2 separate regions of the Homo sapiens genome follow, and region 2 is linked to region 1. The links come from fine-mapping of genetic effects on gene expression. Tissue or cell type: tibial nerve. Region 1 holds a variant in brackets; the other region holds the start of a gene. All regions are shown on one strand. Distances are between the middles of the regions.

The links. PIP is the estimated chance that this variant, and not a neighbour inherited with it, causes the effect.
Region 2: PPP1R14C starts here. The variant in region 1 is fine-mapped to the expression of PPP1R14C in tibial nerve (GTEx, PIP 0.99).

The regions. Positions count from the first base shown.
Region 1 is chr6:150,080,932-150,089,035 of GRCh38, forward strand. No RefSeq gene overlaps it. Among named protein-coding and RNA genes, the nearest start is that of ULBP3, 16 kb to the left of the region's middle. The variant G/C (reference allele first, on the strand shown) is at 4,729.
Region 2 is chr6:150,139,802-150,147,905 of GRCh38, forward strand. It overlaps PPP1R14C (protein phosphatase 1 regulatory inhibitor subunit 14C), which reads left to right and starts at 3,243. Exons shown (of 4, transcript NM_030949.3): 1 at 3,243-3,697. The coding sequence starts at 3,392.

The DNA.
Region 1 (8,104 bases):
AGGAGGACCTGAGGCTTCCATGAAAACCAAGGGCAAACATACTGTTTCATTCAGGCTTCGGCTACCTGGATGTGTGTTCCTCGGGAGAGTGGTTGTGTGTGGTTTTCGCACACCGATATGGATTGTTCTTATAAAGCTGAAAGGGCCACGTTCATAAAACAAAAATAAATAACAAAAATAAAAGCTTTTATCTTTTGCTGTGAATTCTTTTTTTTTTTTTTTTCTGAGACGGAGTCTCGCTCTGTCACCCAGGCTGGAGTGCAGTGGCGGGATCCCGGCTCACTGCAAGCTCCGCCTCCCGGGTTCACACCATTCTCCTGCCTCAGCCTCCCGAGTAGCTGGGACTACAGGTGTCCGCCACCGCACCGGCTAATTTTTTTGTATTTTTAGTAGAGGTGGGGTTTCACCGTGTTAGCCAGGATGGTCTCGATCTCCCGACCTCGTGATCCGCCTGCCTCGGCCTTCCAAATTACAGGCATGAGCCACCGCGCCGGGCCATGAATTCTTAAATAATGAAAAGTGCCTGCAGACTTCTCCTACTCGGTGAATGAGAAAATGTCCATGTTGGCACCCCGTCAAGAGGATAGGTTTTCACAGTACTTAGGGGAGACAACCTCCAGAAATAAAATAACCTTGTGGCAGTTTACTCACAGTGACTTCAGTCCTCAGGGAAAATATGGGCTCAACAAACTGTACACTAGGACTATAATAAATATTGGAGATGGATAATAATTAAAATATAATTTCAGTTAGTTGAAATATTATTCCATCAAACCATTTTTAACTCCAATACAGATATACTTTTTGAAAAAAAAAATGGAAATACAGGCAACTTCATAGAAAAAAGGCCCTCATAAATGTTAAATTTAAATTTTTTTTTTTTTTTTTTTTTAGACAGGGTCTCTCTCTGTCACCCAGGCAATCTCAGCTCACTGCAAACTCTGCCTCCTGGGCTCATGCAATCCTCTTGCCTCAGCCCCCAACCCCCAACCCCCACCCCCTCGCGGCAGTAGCTGAAATTACAGGCATGTACCACCACACCCAGCTAATTTTTGTATTTTTAGTAGAGATAGCATTTCACCATGTTGGCCAGGCTGGTCTTGAACTTCTGGCCTCAAGCGATTTGTTCACCTCGGCCTCCCTAGAAAACATTTAAATTATCTCTTGATAGCTGTTTGTGTGAGAGGTGTTTATACTGTCGTGTGCTGTTTTTTCTGTTAACATAATTTCAAGAAAACAAATGAAGATTTTTATGCAAATAACCTTTTATAATACAATAAACTGCCCTTATGGAGGTTCAGAAATGATGAAAGTTAGGCAAATGAAGCCTCATAGATAACAAAAGGGTTCCCACTAACTCCTGCCCTCCATCTTAACCTCGGCACTGCGTGTTCAGAAAATCAGAAGGCTGGAAACTCTTACCAGTTCTAACTCAGTGGATGGATGAGGGATCCATCCATCCCACAGAGAGAACATATGAAAATTCCAAAATCTGAGCAGATACCTGCACAGTGCATTAGCTACCCTACAAAAGGAAGTGCTTAAATACAATTTTTAAAATGTTTTGGTTACTGGCTGGGCGCGGTGGCTCTCACGCCTGTAATCCCAGCACTTTGGGAGGCTGAGGCGGGTGGATCACGAGGTCAGGAGATTGAGACCATCCTGGCTAACACGGTGAAACCCCGTCTATATAAAAAAAAAAAAAAACACAAAAAATTAGCTGGGAGTGGTGGCGGGCACCCATATTCCCAGTTACTCGGGAGGCTGAGGCAGGAGAATGGCGTGAACCCGGGAGGCGGAGCTTGCGGTGAGTGGAGATCGCGCCACTGCACTCCAGCCTGGGCGATGGAGCGAGACTCCGTCTCAAAAAAAAAAAAAAAGTTTTGGTTACTAAGAGCTATCAAAAAGAAGTGTGGTTGCTTTTCACAAGAAGTTGACAATAAACTTTTTAGTGATTAGTAAATGATGGAGTGATTTTAAACATTGAAAAGCAATCCCTCATTGTTCCACATTATTGTGAAGATCCACGGTATGCTAGTTTGTTAAGCGGGAGCAGGTGTGTTTCTTTCCAGCGGACAACTCTGCCTGGCACCTGACTGAACCTCTTCCAGGGGTATCTTGGGTCCTGGGCCAAGCTGGCGTGGGTGCAAGGGGGAGGTCATTTATATGGAGCACATATAAATGCAAAAATCATTATTGAATTGATCTCTTCTCGGTACTCATTATCCAAACCTGAGTGTGACTCCCCAGCTTTTTATTTGAAGCTCAAGTGTACGCCTGCATGATGTGCGGGTGAGATTTAGGAGATGTGTAAGTCTCCACATCTCACACTGAGCCATGTACCCGTTAGGACTCAGATGAGTGACAAAAGTGCAAGAAACCACAGGGTCAGCTGGTGCATTGCTCCAGAGACTCATTTTGGTCAAAAATTTGTACAGGATAAGCGTATTCATATTTGTTTATATTAAAACAAATCCAACTGTACTACGGTGTAAAATGCAGAACTGGACTTGATTTTCTTTTTCAGTGAAAACAAGGAACATCAAAAAATTACTGCTTTGTAGAGGGCTGCTGTGGGCTGGGTTTTGGTCCTTAGGAGCAAAACATATACTCACTCCTGCTCTTCTGCCAGGAGGGGCAGTTCAGGAGAATCATCTGGAGACCGGATTCTCATTTATCAATTTCATTTCACATCCAAGGAAACTAAAGCACAAGGAGAAAACTGATGTGTGGATGTGATTTGGGCTTCATACACCTTCCTTCTTCCATTAAACTTTGGCTATGTCTTCCTACTTTCAACCTCAGCCTTGACCAAGTAGACAATTCAAAGGAAGCCTGGTCTAGTGGTCCAGGGAGGAGCACAGGAGGGTCCATGATTCTAGTTCCTGTTGTGCCACTAACCAACCATGTGACTCAAGCAAGGGATTGCATGTCCCAGTCCCTCGGTGACAGAGACATGTAAAAGTGGAGTGTGAAGGGCTGTGTGAAGTGGTGGAGCCTGAAACCTGGAGTCCAGCGATTGAAGGCACTTTGGTAAGGAACGGAGGTGGGCTGCCCAGGAGCAAGTCCAATCTCAAGCTAGCACACTTGCCCTCTGCCTTATCTGCATGGCCTGTGGTTGGTGACTCCAGCACTGGGCACAGTGATGAACACATCATAGGTGGTTAATGTGCCTCTGCTGAATGAATGAGGCATCATGGGAAACCCTGCAGAGGTGGTTGGCATTTGCAGTAGAACTCAAATCAGAGGGGTTTGCTGGGAGAAGGAGATGGATAACTTTGTAAAACAGATGTGCATGATTAGACTTATGTCCCTCCTTGCTAGCACAGAAAAATCCCTGATGTTTATCAGTAGTTCTAAAGGCAGGATGGAGCTCAGGCTGGTGGAGTGTGTTTTATTCTTTCACCTTCCCAAGTATTTGTGATCCTTCCTTTCAGCACACTTGGGAAAGCCAAGTGAGAATGGGGCTTGGTGAGCAGGGAGTCCCAGGTCTTGTGGGGATCACAGAACCTGCCTTCCTTTCTTCCTCCATCCTCCTGGGAAAGAGAGCTCCCCTTCTTCACCCCATGACACTGTGAAGAATTAAGCCCTAAGAGAAACCTGTGCCGTATCACCATTCCTTTGTTTAGTGTTTCTCACTTTACCTTTCTCTCCGTTTTCATTGCATCTGGTGACCGGAAATGCTGCTGGGAGGAGGGAGACTCCTGAGGGAGATTGGTGCCATAGCGTGGGGAGCACCAGACACCAGGGATAAAAGCGTCCACATATGCACTGTCTCACGGAGACACTAGACACTTCACTAGAAAGTGGAAGGCAGAGATTTAGACTCATGTTTCGTCTGGCTCCAAAGCCCATATTTATCTCACTGAGGTGGGTATAAACTGTTTATCTTGTTGGAATTAGGAAGAGAGTGGTAGAACTTTCAGGAACCTTCATTGTCAGCTAGATTTGTACTACGAGATTTTCCTGAATTTCCAGTGCAAAAGGCCCACAGCCAATTGGTCTGAGGAAGGAGGCTCTAGGGGAGCCGTTTGTCCCCCAGCAGCAGGAGGAATCCAAATGAAAATCTTGGCCACACCGCAGCTGAACTGGCTCTCAGTCACATGGAAGAGGTTCCATTTCAGGTGTGCTCTCTGGGTTTTCTTTTAGTGGACTTTGGGAGAGGAAAAGGGCTGGATTCCTACTACTGTCCTCACCTGAATGAAGGAGAAGCAGGAAAGAGGAGGGGCTCAGATTCCCGGGTCGTGAGTGCTTGGGGGGCCGCTTGAGTGACTCTATGGGCTTTGTGGGTTAGACTCCTGGGAAGACCTGGCTGGGCACCTAATTTCTATTTTTAGAATCCTTTCTGGTAGAAAGTAAGTTCCAGGTTCTAAACATGAAGTGCAAGGCCAGGTGTGGTGTCTCTCGCCTTTAATCCCAAGCATTCTGGGAGGCCAAGGTGGGTGGACTGCTTGAGCTCAGGAGTTCGAGACTAGCCTGGGCAACATGGTGAGATCCCATCTCTACCAAAAATACAAAAAATTAGCCAGGCATAGTGGTGTGCCCCTATGGTCCACCTACTTGGGAGGATGAGGTGGGAGGATTGCTTGAGCCTGGGAGGCAGATGTTGCAGTGAGCCAATATCATGCCACTGAACTCCTGCCTGGGCAACAGAGTGAGACTCAGTCTCAAAAAGTTAAAAATAGGCAGGGCGCGGTGGCTCACGCCTGTAATCCCAGCACTTTGGGA[G/C]GCCGAGGCGGGCAGATCACGAGGTCAGGAGATAGAGACCATCTTGGCTAACACGGTGAAACCCCATCTCTACTAAAAATACAAAAACAAAATTAGCCGGGCGTGGTGGCGGGCGCCTGTAGTCCCAGCTATTCGGGAGGCTGAGGCAGGAGAATGGTGTGAACCCGGGAGGTGGAGCTTGCAGTGAGCCGAGATCGCGCCACTGCACTCCAGCTCCACCAACAGAGCGAGACTCCGTCTCAAAAAAAAAAAAAAAGTTAAAAATAAATAAATAAAACAAAAATGATGTGCAAATGGACTTCTGAACACAACCTGTTTATAAGTTGAGGTTGTAATGATAAAAATGGTTTTAGGTTCAAGACACATTTTAAAATCTTGATGTTTGAAATACTTGTGAACAGGAACTTGCATTGGTAAGAACATGTAACAAATGGATATGTACGATGATGAAAAGCTAGTGGTATGACTAGGTTGACAGAAAAATGAATCAATGCATCTTCCTCACTCAGAAATAAATTAGACTAAAACCAGTCACCACCTGAAATGACTCCGTTCCTGCCAAATGCTTTGCGACCTGTCTCTTTTCATTAGGTAGGCTTTGTTGGTCCTGGTATGGAGGCTTTTATGTATTTCATCTTCCGTGGAGCAAATGGGGTGATAATAAATAAATGCTTGCTGTATACAGGTGGGGCAACGGAGGGACGCCAGTGTCAGAGTAGTGGGCGGGTTCTGCTCTCCCTTGCCCACTATTGCTGGGTGACCCTGGAACAGCCAGTTGACTGTTCCAGGTCAACTTTGCTCATCTGAATACGAAATTAGGGAATAGAACAAGCCTTCATCAATCTCCAAAAGTCTGTGATCCTGTATATAAAGCAAAGTTTTATCGCAGAGCCTCCTGAAAAAGGACTAATCAAATTATGATTCAATGAGTGATTTTTTTCATAGCTATATAGTTATTATCAGAGTAGGTTATTGCTTATTTTTGAAGTCTGTGTTTGGAAAAGATTAATACAGTTATAAATTGTGTTTCTCAAAAGTCCCTTGAGTGACAGGGGACATTAAGTTAACAATTGTAGATCCTTTGTTTTCTTTGCATTTCCTTTGTGATACGCAGCTAGCAAGTTATCTGATTTCCAGCACAGCGTCACAGACATTTCCATGCCTTTGACTTTAGAAAATGCAAGCGTGAGTGTTGCATCTTGGAATTATAAATATTCGTGGGTATATAAGTTCATACCCACACATAATGCAAAAGTTAGGACTTCTGAGAAAAATGGTGGCTGGAGTTATCTTCAAAGAATGGAAGCAATCATACCTTACTTTGCTGCAGTACTGCTTAGGATAACTATGTTTGTCTCTCCCTTGGCTTCACCAAGTCAAATTTAAGCTGCCCTTCATTTTTACCAAATTTTCTGGCTTTAGAAAGAAACCACCCATAGTGCTGACAGTGTTGAAAAAGCTGATTTTTATGTCTTTTTCCTCTGTAAACGTGGCTACTTCATTCCAGGCTGGGGAAGAGGGGAGGGCATGGGTTCGGTCTTTCTACAAGATGCTCCTCTGTTCATATGTGGTTGGTGAGAATGTGTAAGTGGTCATCTGGGATGAGCCGCAAGTCTTTCACAGAGTGTGAGCTGTATTAGCCAGCTCCCAATGAGGCTTTGCATGATAGAGCCACAGCAAAGGGAAAAGACATATAAAAAGGCTGATTTTTAAACCTACTGCATCAGAACATGTACTTTGAAAGCTATGTAGACAGAGTGAATATAGTTTTAGGGAGGCAGGATTCTGGGCACCCACTGCTGTTGTAGGAAGGACAGGCCCCTACAAGTAGGTGTGCTGGCGCCTGTGGCTGGGAAATCTGTATTGGCTCTGCCTTTGGGCTGAACTGAGCAGAGCAGGAGCCATATGGAAGGTCAGACACCCTCCACAGTCCTGTCCTTCCCTTGCACAGCTCTCCCTCTGCCCTCTCAAAGACAACCTTTGTTTGTGCAGCTCTTTCTATGGGAGGCACTTGTTGACTTTCAAGTTGCAGGTTGCTCAGGAAATATTATTTACTACATTTCTTAGGTGAGGAAAGAAACATTGGAAGGTGAATGCACAGGCCCAGGGTCACACTAGTTAGTAACAGAGGTTGCTTTTGAACCCAGATCGCTTGTCATCAAATGAAATGTTCTCTCTGGGGTCCCTATGACTTCTAAAAGAAATTCTCAGAATATTTCCTGCAACTGATTTGCTGTCTTTCCATCATTTCACTTGTAGCCCAGTGTTAATAAGATCTTTTATAACCAGGCCAGGCACGGTGGCTCACACTTGTAATCCCAGCACTTTGGGAGGCAGAGGCAGGCAGATCACTTGAGGTCAGGAGTTCGAGACCAGCCTGGTCAACGTGGCGAAACCCCATCTCTATTAAAAATAAAAAAATTGGCTGGGCACAGTGGCTCACGCCTGTAATACCAGCACTTTAGGAGGCCGAGGCGGGTGGATCACGAGGTCAGGAGATTGAGACCATCCTGGCTAACATGGTGAAACCCTGTCTCTACTAAAAATACAAAAATTAGCTGAGCATGGTGGCGGGCGCCTGTAGTCCCAGCTACTCAGGATGCTAAGGTGGAAGAATGGCGTGAACCCAGGAGGCAGAGCTTGCAGTGAGCTGAGATCGTGCCACTGCACTCCAGCCTGGGTGACAGAGCAAGACTCCGTCTCAAAAAAAAAAATATATATATATATATATAAAATAATAATAATAATAAAATTAGCTGGATGTGGTGGCATGTGCCTGTAATCAATCCCAGCTACTCAGGAGGCTGAGGCAGGAGAATCACTTGAACCCGGGAGGCAGAGGTTACAGTGAGCAGAGTTTGTACCACTTGCTCTCCAGCCTGAGTGACAGAGCGAGACTCCATCTCAAAGAAAAAAAAAAACAAAAAAACTCAAAAAACCAACCAACCAACCAAACAAACAAAGATCTTTTGTGACCAGCAATACAGAACCATTCAGGGACTCTATGAAAAGCTCACATCTTGTGGCCAGGGGACAGCAAGTGGCCACAGCAGCGAAGAGGGGGAAGTGTCAGGATGGGATGACCGTCACCAGTTCCTGCTTCTCAAAGGCTGGGCAGGAGCTGGACTATTTGCAAGGGTCTGGTAGACTGGAGGAGCTACAGCCATCAGTGGTGGAGGGAGGGGAAGGGGGAGAGGGAGGGGGTTACCACTCATGGGACACCTGCACCATGTGAAGCACAGCGCTCCCTTAAGCTCCACAGTGGGAGGGCGGAGCCTGCAGGGCAGATGTTCTCTCTCAGCCTCCAACAGGGAGGCAGCAGGTGATGGCCTGAGCATGAGCACTGGATGCTGTTCCCGGGACGCTGACTTGGAAA
Region 2 (8,104 bases), 59 kb after region 1:
GAGATAAAGGACCTATATAATTCCTAAACAAACAAACAAAAAACTTTGTCCAATTTGGGAAGCAAGTAAAACATAACCAAGCTAAGAAAACACAAAACTACGAAGAAAAAGATTCAAATGAAACATCCTTAGGCTGCCCTCTCATAGCAGGGAGTAATTGCCTTCAGGTAAAAGTTGATTCCGGACCATTCAATTCACTGAAAGCTATTCACTGTCTTAGATTAACCAGCACCTAAAAACACTTGACTAAATAGGCTAGAAATAAAAATGTTTTCCTTGAATAAATGTATATATTATTGGTTTTGTAGATGAGAAATACCACTGGTTTTGCCGAATTTAAATAGTCAGCTATGTAAAGGGTCTCTGGACTAGGAAAAATTCCTTTATTCCTAAATATTTTGGCTTCAATATTTGAAATCTGCAAAAGCAGTATTTCTATCTGTCAAAATGAGGCCATTAAGTTTTGATTATTCAAACCTGGAATGAAGTGTGTGTGTCTGGGGGTAGAGGAGATGATATGGACTTCACTTTGAATATAAATTACGTACTGGGTGGAGCAAATGGATTTAAAGAAAGAGGAACCCTGGTTCAATTCTATTTGCCAGTCAAGGTGACTCACTTGAACATCTGAAGGCCAGCGTACCTGTGGAAAGAGACTATTTCCTGGATTTTCTTCTGTGAGTCAAGATGCTTAAAACCCATGTCTTTTAGTATCTGTCATTTTGGAGTTGTAAGGGAAAATTGAGTTTTAAGCATAAAGGAAAAAGCATCTTATGCTGTGAGAAAAAAATTGACATCAGAATTTCTCAGAAAGAACTTAGTGAATTTTTTAAAATTATTTGACGTTATCCTTGAATGACTGATTTCGTTGTCCAAAGACTTAAAGAAAGGAGTTGGAATTCCCCAGACTTTGCCAAACTGTGGGATGGCACAATAGGTATTGTCAGGTCCCAGGGCCAGAATGAGGTAGAGATTTTATGTAGTTTCTCCTTTGTTAATAACATTTAAGCTGTTTTCGTTCTGATTTGCATTCTCCTGATTAGTGCAGTTGGTCAAAGCTGGTGCTAGCGGACTTGGCCAGATGTCTGGAGCCATATAAGCTGATTCTGTGTGGGAGATGCTGGGGCTGGTTCCTGCCCTCCTTTCCCTTCCTCCTTGCAGACAGAGTTCCATTTTGAGGTGGTCACTCTCTTGGCTGTGTGTTCGGGGTTTACAGTGACCCACCCTAAAGGCAGAGGGGCAGAGGTGGTGCAGAGACTGGTCATCGGTCTCTAGGGGCAATCAAGGTAATTCATCTCCCTTGTCCCTGATAGGCTCGGTGCAAAACCCATCTTCTAAAGGGCAGCTGGCCTCTTCTAGCGGGGCAGAGATCGTTCAGCTTTGACCCCTTTGTAATTATGGCAGGAGTCCAGGGCCCCACACCAGCCACCCTATTTCAATCTCCGCAGATCCTTCCCCTTCACATTGTGAGGCTTGACATGTCCCTGTGAAGAGCCGCAGGCATGGAACACTTTGGGAAAATCCCTATTCAGGCTCTCACTGGAAAACCCCAGACTGAGGGTACAAAGGCAATGGATCCTAAGCCTGGGTAGAGCAGAGCTGGGCGCTGGTGGATCGCAGAGCCTGAAGCGCCAGGAGAAACCTGCTGGTTACTTTTATTTTGTCTTTGTAGTGTCAGTCTAGAACCCCACACAGGATCTTCTCCATCATAGGAAAGTGTTCCGAGGAATTTGACTTGGTATCTATTTTATCTCTGAGAAACTTCTTTGAGTAGCTGCCAGTAACCTTTAGGGCTCTTTTATTTAAAAACAACAACAACAACAAACAAACAAAAAAAGTTCATGGCCAGGCGCGGTGGCTCACACCTGTAATCCCAGCACTTTGGGAGGCCCAGGCGGGCGGATCATGAGGTCAGGAGTTCGAGACCAGAATGACCAACATGGTGAAACCCTGTCTCTACTAAAAATACAAAAATTAGCTTGGTGTGGTGGCGAAAGCCTGTAATCCCAGCTCTTCAGGAGGGTGAGGCAGGAGAATCGCTTGAACCCCGAAGTCAGAGGTTGCAGTGAGCCGAGATCTCGCCACTGCTCCCCAGCCTGGGCAACAGAGAGACTCCGTCTCAAAAAACAAAACAAAACAAAACCGTTACTAAAAGCCGCTTACTTGTATTCATTCGGACGTCTCTGTGGTTTCTATCAGTTCCTGAACAGGAATGTATTGTTGTGTACAAGAAGAATATGTTAGTGTCTCCCTAATTTTACACATGCAGTTTTCTGTTTACAACTTCCCTCCCCACCTTATTGTCCTAACCCTTCTGAGAAGCTCCTTCATGTGTAACTACTAGGCTGTGATGTTTTGCAGTAGAGTCAGGCAGTGCTGTTGCCCTCCTGGGTGGAAGGGGCTGTTTGGAATGGGATGGAGAGAAAGCTGGCAGTGCACGGGACGCAACACTAGAAATGTGAAACCAGGACCCTGTCGCCGACCCTCTTAGAGAAATGTTTACTGTCTGGATGCCCCCAGACGCCTTGCCTGAGCGCCGTCACGCTTTCTGCCCTTTGGATACGAAGATATCCGAATGCTGTGCCCATGATTAAGCAGACGCTTAGTAAGGAAAGAAAACATTGGTCTGGAAATAATTTCTCAAGCGCCGTGACTGCCTTATTGCACAAACATCGCCTCTTCGATGTTTCTCACAATCCAGAGAGGAAGTGGCATCCATCGTGGCATGAATAGGAATGTGTGTTTGGAGCCGTGGGGCGGGGCTGGAGGGGAGGGGACGCTACCCAGCCAACAGAGGAGACGGTGGGGCTAGGAAAACCTCCTGGGGGAGCCTGCGGCGCGGTCCTTTCCTGTGTCCCCTTCGCTGCGGGTCCTGCCCGGGGCCGCGCCAGGTGGAGGCCCCGAGAGGCGGCGCGTTTCCTGCGCTCCGGGATTGCGGGAGAAGCGTGAGTCCCTGTCTCCGAGACTAGAGGCCACGGACACCCGCGCAGGAGCATCCCCTGGCACCCCGCCCCACGCCCGTCCTTCCGGAGTCTACACATCGGCGACCTCCCGTGTCTAGGCGCACACATTTCCCGCCCCGCGGAGACTCCCACGCCCCGGGCCCTCTCTGCCGCAGGCGCCAGATCCCGCCTCTGGGGGCTGGACCGAGAGGGTCCTCGGCGGCTTCTTTAAGGCTGCGGTCCCCGCCCCGTCGTCCTCCCCGCCCTCCTCCCTCTCGCCGCGGCTCCTCCCGCCCTCCCAGAGCAGCCGGGCGGCTGGGCGCGCGCGGCGCAGAGCAGGTGCCGGGGAGCCCTTCGCATGCGGCTGCCGGGCCGGAGGTGGTAGCGGCGCCGGGCGCGCTCCGCCCGCCCCTCCTCCGGGCCGCACTGAGGCTCGGGCGCGCGGGGACATGTCGGTGGCGACGGGCAGCAGCGAGACGGCCGGCGGGGCCAGCGGCGGCGGCGCACGGGTTTTCTTCCAAAGCCCCCGGGGTGGCGCCGGTGGCAGCCCCGGCTCCAGCAGCGGCTCAGGCTCCTCCCGGGAGGACTCGGCGCCCGTGGCCACGGCGGCCGCTGCAGGGCAGGTTCAGCAGCAACAGCAGCGGCGACACCAGCAGGGAAAAGTGACAGTGAAATACGATCGTAAGGAGCTTCGGAAGCGGCTGGTGCTGGAGGAATGGATCGTGGAGCAGCTGGGTCAGCTCTACGGCTGCGAGGTACCTGGGCGCGGGGCTGGGAGGGTCGGGGACCTCTCTAGCTCCTCTGTGCCCGCGCAGTAATTTTCCCGGGCTCCAGCTCCGGGGCGCGCATGTCCCTGACTCCCGGGGACCAAGTGCCAGGAGCGAGGCGCGGCGCCTTCTCTCCCCCGCGGTGCCCTCTGGCGTCGGGCTCAGCGGTTGGGACGCCCCTGTCTGGGTTCGGCTGCCGGTGCCCGGGGATCTGCGGGCCCCCTTGGTGGCCGTGGGGAGGGTTGGGTCCCGCGGAGCACAGTGCTTTTCTCCGAGCTCCGGGCGCCTCTGGGCTCCAGCTGCAGCTGCGCAAAGCGGGGCTCGGAGGGGCTCACTCCAGCTGCGCCTCAGCAGCGGTTGGGGATACAGCAGCCAAAGAGAGCAGCGCTCACTGCTGGGATCCGGGCAGCCCTGATTTTTGTGGAGAACGAGCAGGGAAGGAAGGAAGCTGCCTCGTGGAAAGGAGAGGTTCTGGGGATCTCAGAGGCCCCCTTGGTTCTTGAAATTCCCCGTGAAAATCCTGAGATGGAACGCTTTCCGCTTTCCAGCCAGCCCCGACGGTGTCTCCATAATTCCGCCCTGCATTATCAGAGCTGCACACGTTGTGCTTTGTTGAAGCCGTAGTTTTTCCTCTCTAAGCTCAGTTACTCCCATTGATGGGCGCAGAATGAGCATCTGGGGCAACCTCGACGGGTGCCTCGGTGGAAGGGCGGGAGCCCTGCGGGGGGCCTGCGGGATCCCGGGATCTGTCAGCTTCAGGCTCCCAGCTCCCCTCTCCTCCACGACATCGTGACTTCCCAAGGTCCAGGGACTAAGGTCATACACAAGTCTCAGGGACGTGTATACATTTGATTTAGGGAGAAATATGTAGAATAAACTGCAGCAAAACGACTGAAGCCAAAATGATCTCTCATGAGCATCTTGAATAACAGTTATTAATTCTAAATGAAGTGACCTCCTCTTAAGGGAGTGGAGTTTGGAAAGGGTGGAAGCATGAAGGGGTTAATAATTAAGAATGTGGCTTCTAAGCTAAAGCTAGGTTTGTGTTCATTCAACTGTTGTGCTCTTCAACAGAGATGACAACCAGATGAACTCACAGGCTTTACCACTAATGTCGGGTGTTCTGTATTTGACACATTTCATGGCCTGTTGTGAAGACACGTTTTCTTAAACACCCTCATTGCACAAGAAAACAGCATACTCGTTACTGACTACTGATAAATGATTATAATATAATGAAGCTTGACTGTATGACTAATGGGGTTGTAAAAATGTGTTGTTTCTCCAGTCCAGCTCTTACAAAAAGCTAATTTAATTGCATAAATAAAAACTGGCAAACATAAGAAGTATTCATGAGATTTTTATAGGAAGTTGGCAAAACTCTGTAAAGAAACATTATTTGATGTAGATGGGATTACTGTTGGATGAGTGGATGTGCTCAGTCCTGCCTCTGTAGAATCCAGTTAATTTTCATTTATTTCATACTGTTTTTTTTTTCTCCATTTGGGATTTGGAAAAGATTCGAATTAATAGAAAAAGCATTGTTGAAATTAACAGTGCACCAGCATGGTTCTTTTTGTGGGAGACTAATTAGGCTTAGATTGGGAAGCTAGAAAGAGCTCTACCCACTGAGTAGCCTGATAAACAATATATTTAAAAAATACTTCAGAATAATTAGAAAAAATGGAGGTTTGATTGTTTCCTGTGTGGAACATGTAGGTTAGGTATATATTTTAAAGGGTAAACATGAGCTTGAATCTTTTCCTTGTATTGTACTTTTCTTCTTGGGTTTTAAATCTTCAACCCGTAGCAAACAGCTAGACATTTGAAAGGGAGGTTTTTGTGGTGAAATAATTCAAGATGCTCTATATGCTGCCTGCATGTCATTAACGTGGCAAGTATTTTTCTTCAAGTTGTTTGTTCAGTCATTGTAGGCTGAAGGAAGAGAAATAATTAGGTTGTTGGCAATTTGTAATCACTATGCTGGTGGTGTACCTCCATTTAATAATAAAGAAACATGGGCAAATAAGTAGCCAAATAAAGGCTTGTCTCTTTGCATCTATTTCTCTGCTGATAGTGCTCTATTTTTAGCATTGGGTTCTCTTGTTGAGTAACCTTTCTTTGTTGATAGCTTCAAGTATTTCAGCCTCTGGTTTGTGAATCAAGAAGGACGCACCCTAGCTTACAGCTCCGAACTTCATGCATACGAAGATTAGGAAATGTCCTTTTTATACTTAAAAGTGGTAATTCTTTCAAATGTTTAGCCCATGAAAGTGACACAGCCAATTTCCCAGCCTTCAAACCTCAAACCTGCCAAAGGCTTGAGTTATCTGCTGAGTTGGGGTAGAATATGAACACATCTTTAATTTCAGAAGAACTTGACCCAAGCAGGTTAGGAATCAGATGACTTGACCTTTTCAGAATAGAAAATAATCTTTTGGAGCAGTGTAAAGTGATGTATTTAGAAAGAGGAAGAGGAAAGAAGAAATACACAGAACCACTTTCTGTCTGTGTTTTTTTCTGGAAGTGTGCAGTGACTAATCAGTTTTGTATGAGAATAATGTCATAGGGGAATTTATTACCTACCTACTAGGTGACTAGGTGCTCTTCTAGGTACTTTGGGCTAATTCATTTAGTCTTCATAACAACCCTATAAAGAAGATGTTCTTTTTATCCTTGTTTAAATGTAAATAAAGAAGTGAAGACTCAGAGAGGATTAAAAGGCTGCTTCAAGCTCATGTAGCTGGTGGGTGGGTTGGGGTTGAGGATGAACCCAGTCTGGAATCTGAGTCCACTGTATACCCATGAGGCCTGTCTGTACCGTGCAAGAGAGCAAATGTAGGTCTACAAGACATCTGTCTAAATGTTTAAAACTTATGAGTTAAACTAACAACATTTGTATAAAATTTCTTCTGTCCACTGATCTTGACAGCTACATCTTCATAATGACCTTGAAGTCTAGGTTTGCATTTTGAATTCAAAATGTTACTTCCCAGAGTCATGAACTGAAATGCAGTTAGGAGACTGCCCTGGCCTGGGTTTCTTCCCTTTTGCTTCCCATCCTTGGTACAGTCCCACCTGGTAAAGGACACTGTGTCCACTCGCACGCCCAGTCTTGGTATGCACCTGCCACTCCTTGACCATGATGCCTCTGCACACACCAGTGGTGATGTCCCCCTAGGCCAGAACAGATCTGGGAGGAGCTTGTTCATGCCCTAGAAGCTACTTGGGATTTGAGAAGGGAATTCTGGGGACCCGGATCACAGACTAAAACCAAGTGGAGGGGCACTGGTTCTGGATAGATGTGTCCACTTTGTCCTAGGAAGTCTTCAGGAAGACAGGTTATGGCAGGAGTGGGGCCCGGAGATGTGGTCCCCTCTTACCCAGTCTAAGGGCAGCACTGTAAAATACCACGTCAAATAGCCTTTTGAATACGTAGATAAGTGCTTTTATTGGATTCCAAAATGATTTGTTATGTGCTTATAGTTCTTTTCCATCTCATCTTCTCTTGGGAAGGCTTATACAGGTACATTTTCAGCTAGGAATTTGATTATAATGTAACCATTAGACTAAATCTACATCTACATCCACATTTAAGGATTTCTGTTTAAAGACCTTTTTTTTTTTTTTTTAATCTCTTCCAAACCCTGGTGGGTTTTTTTTGTTTTGTTTTGTTTTTGTTTTTTTGAGATGAAGTCTTTCTCTGTGGCCTAGGCTAGAGTGCAGTGGCGCAATCTCAGCTCACTGCAACCTCCGCCTCCTGGGTTCAAACGATTCTCCTGCTTCTGCCTCCTGAGTAGCTGGGGCTGCAGATGCGTGCCACCATGCCCGGCTAATTTTTGTATTTTTAGTAGAGACAGGGTTTCACTATGTTGGCCAGGCTGGTCTCGAACTCCTGATCTCATGATCCGACTGCCTCAGCCTCCCAAAGTGCTGGGATTACAGGCATGAGCCACCGCGCCCAGCCAACCCTGGTGGTTTTTAAGAGCATTTGAAATCTGGCATAATATCTACTTTAACAAGTACTGCAAGATGACTTACTGGATAAGTCATATGAATATTTCCAAGTTTGCCCAGCATCAAGATAACATCTGTACTTCCAGTTTTGCAATTCAATTTGCTTTGGAAATAAAAACATGTTGCTAAGCTCAGATGATTGCAATGCCCGTAGCATCCTAGCCATAAACAGGCTTGTGTACCTTGGGTACTTGCTGTGTTGTTCTGACTGTCACCTTAGTAGGTCTTTCCCTTTGCTTCCAGTGTCTGCTTTTTATAAAATGGTTCCTGACTTATTATACCTTTCAGTCTTCCCTGACTCCCCATTACCCCCATTTTATAAAAACTGTCTTCTGAGAGATGGTGGTGACACAGAAAGAAATACCCTGTTGATTGCTG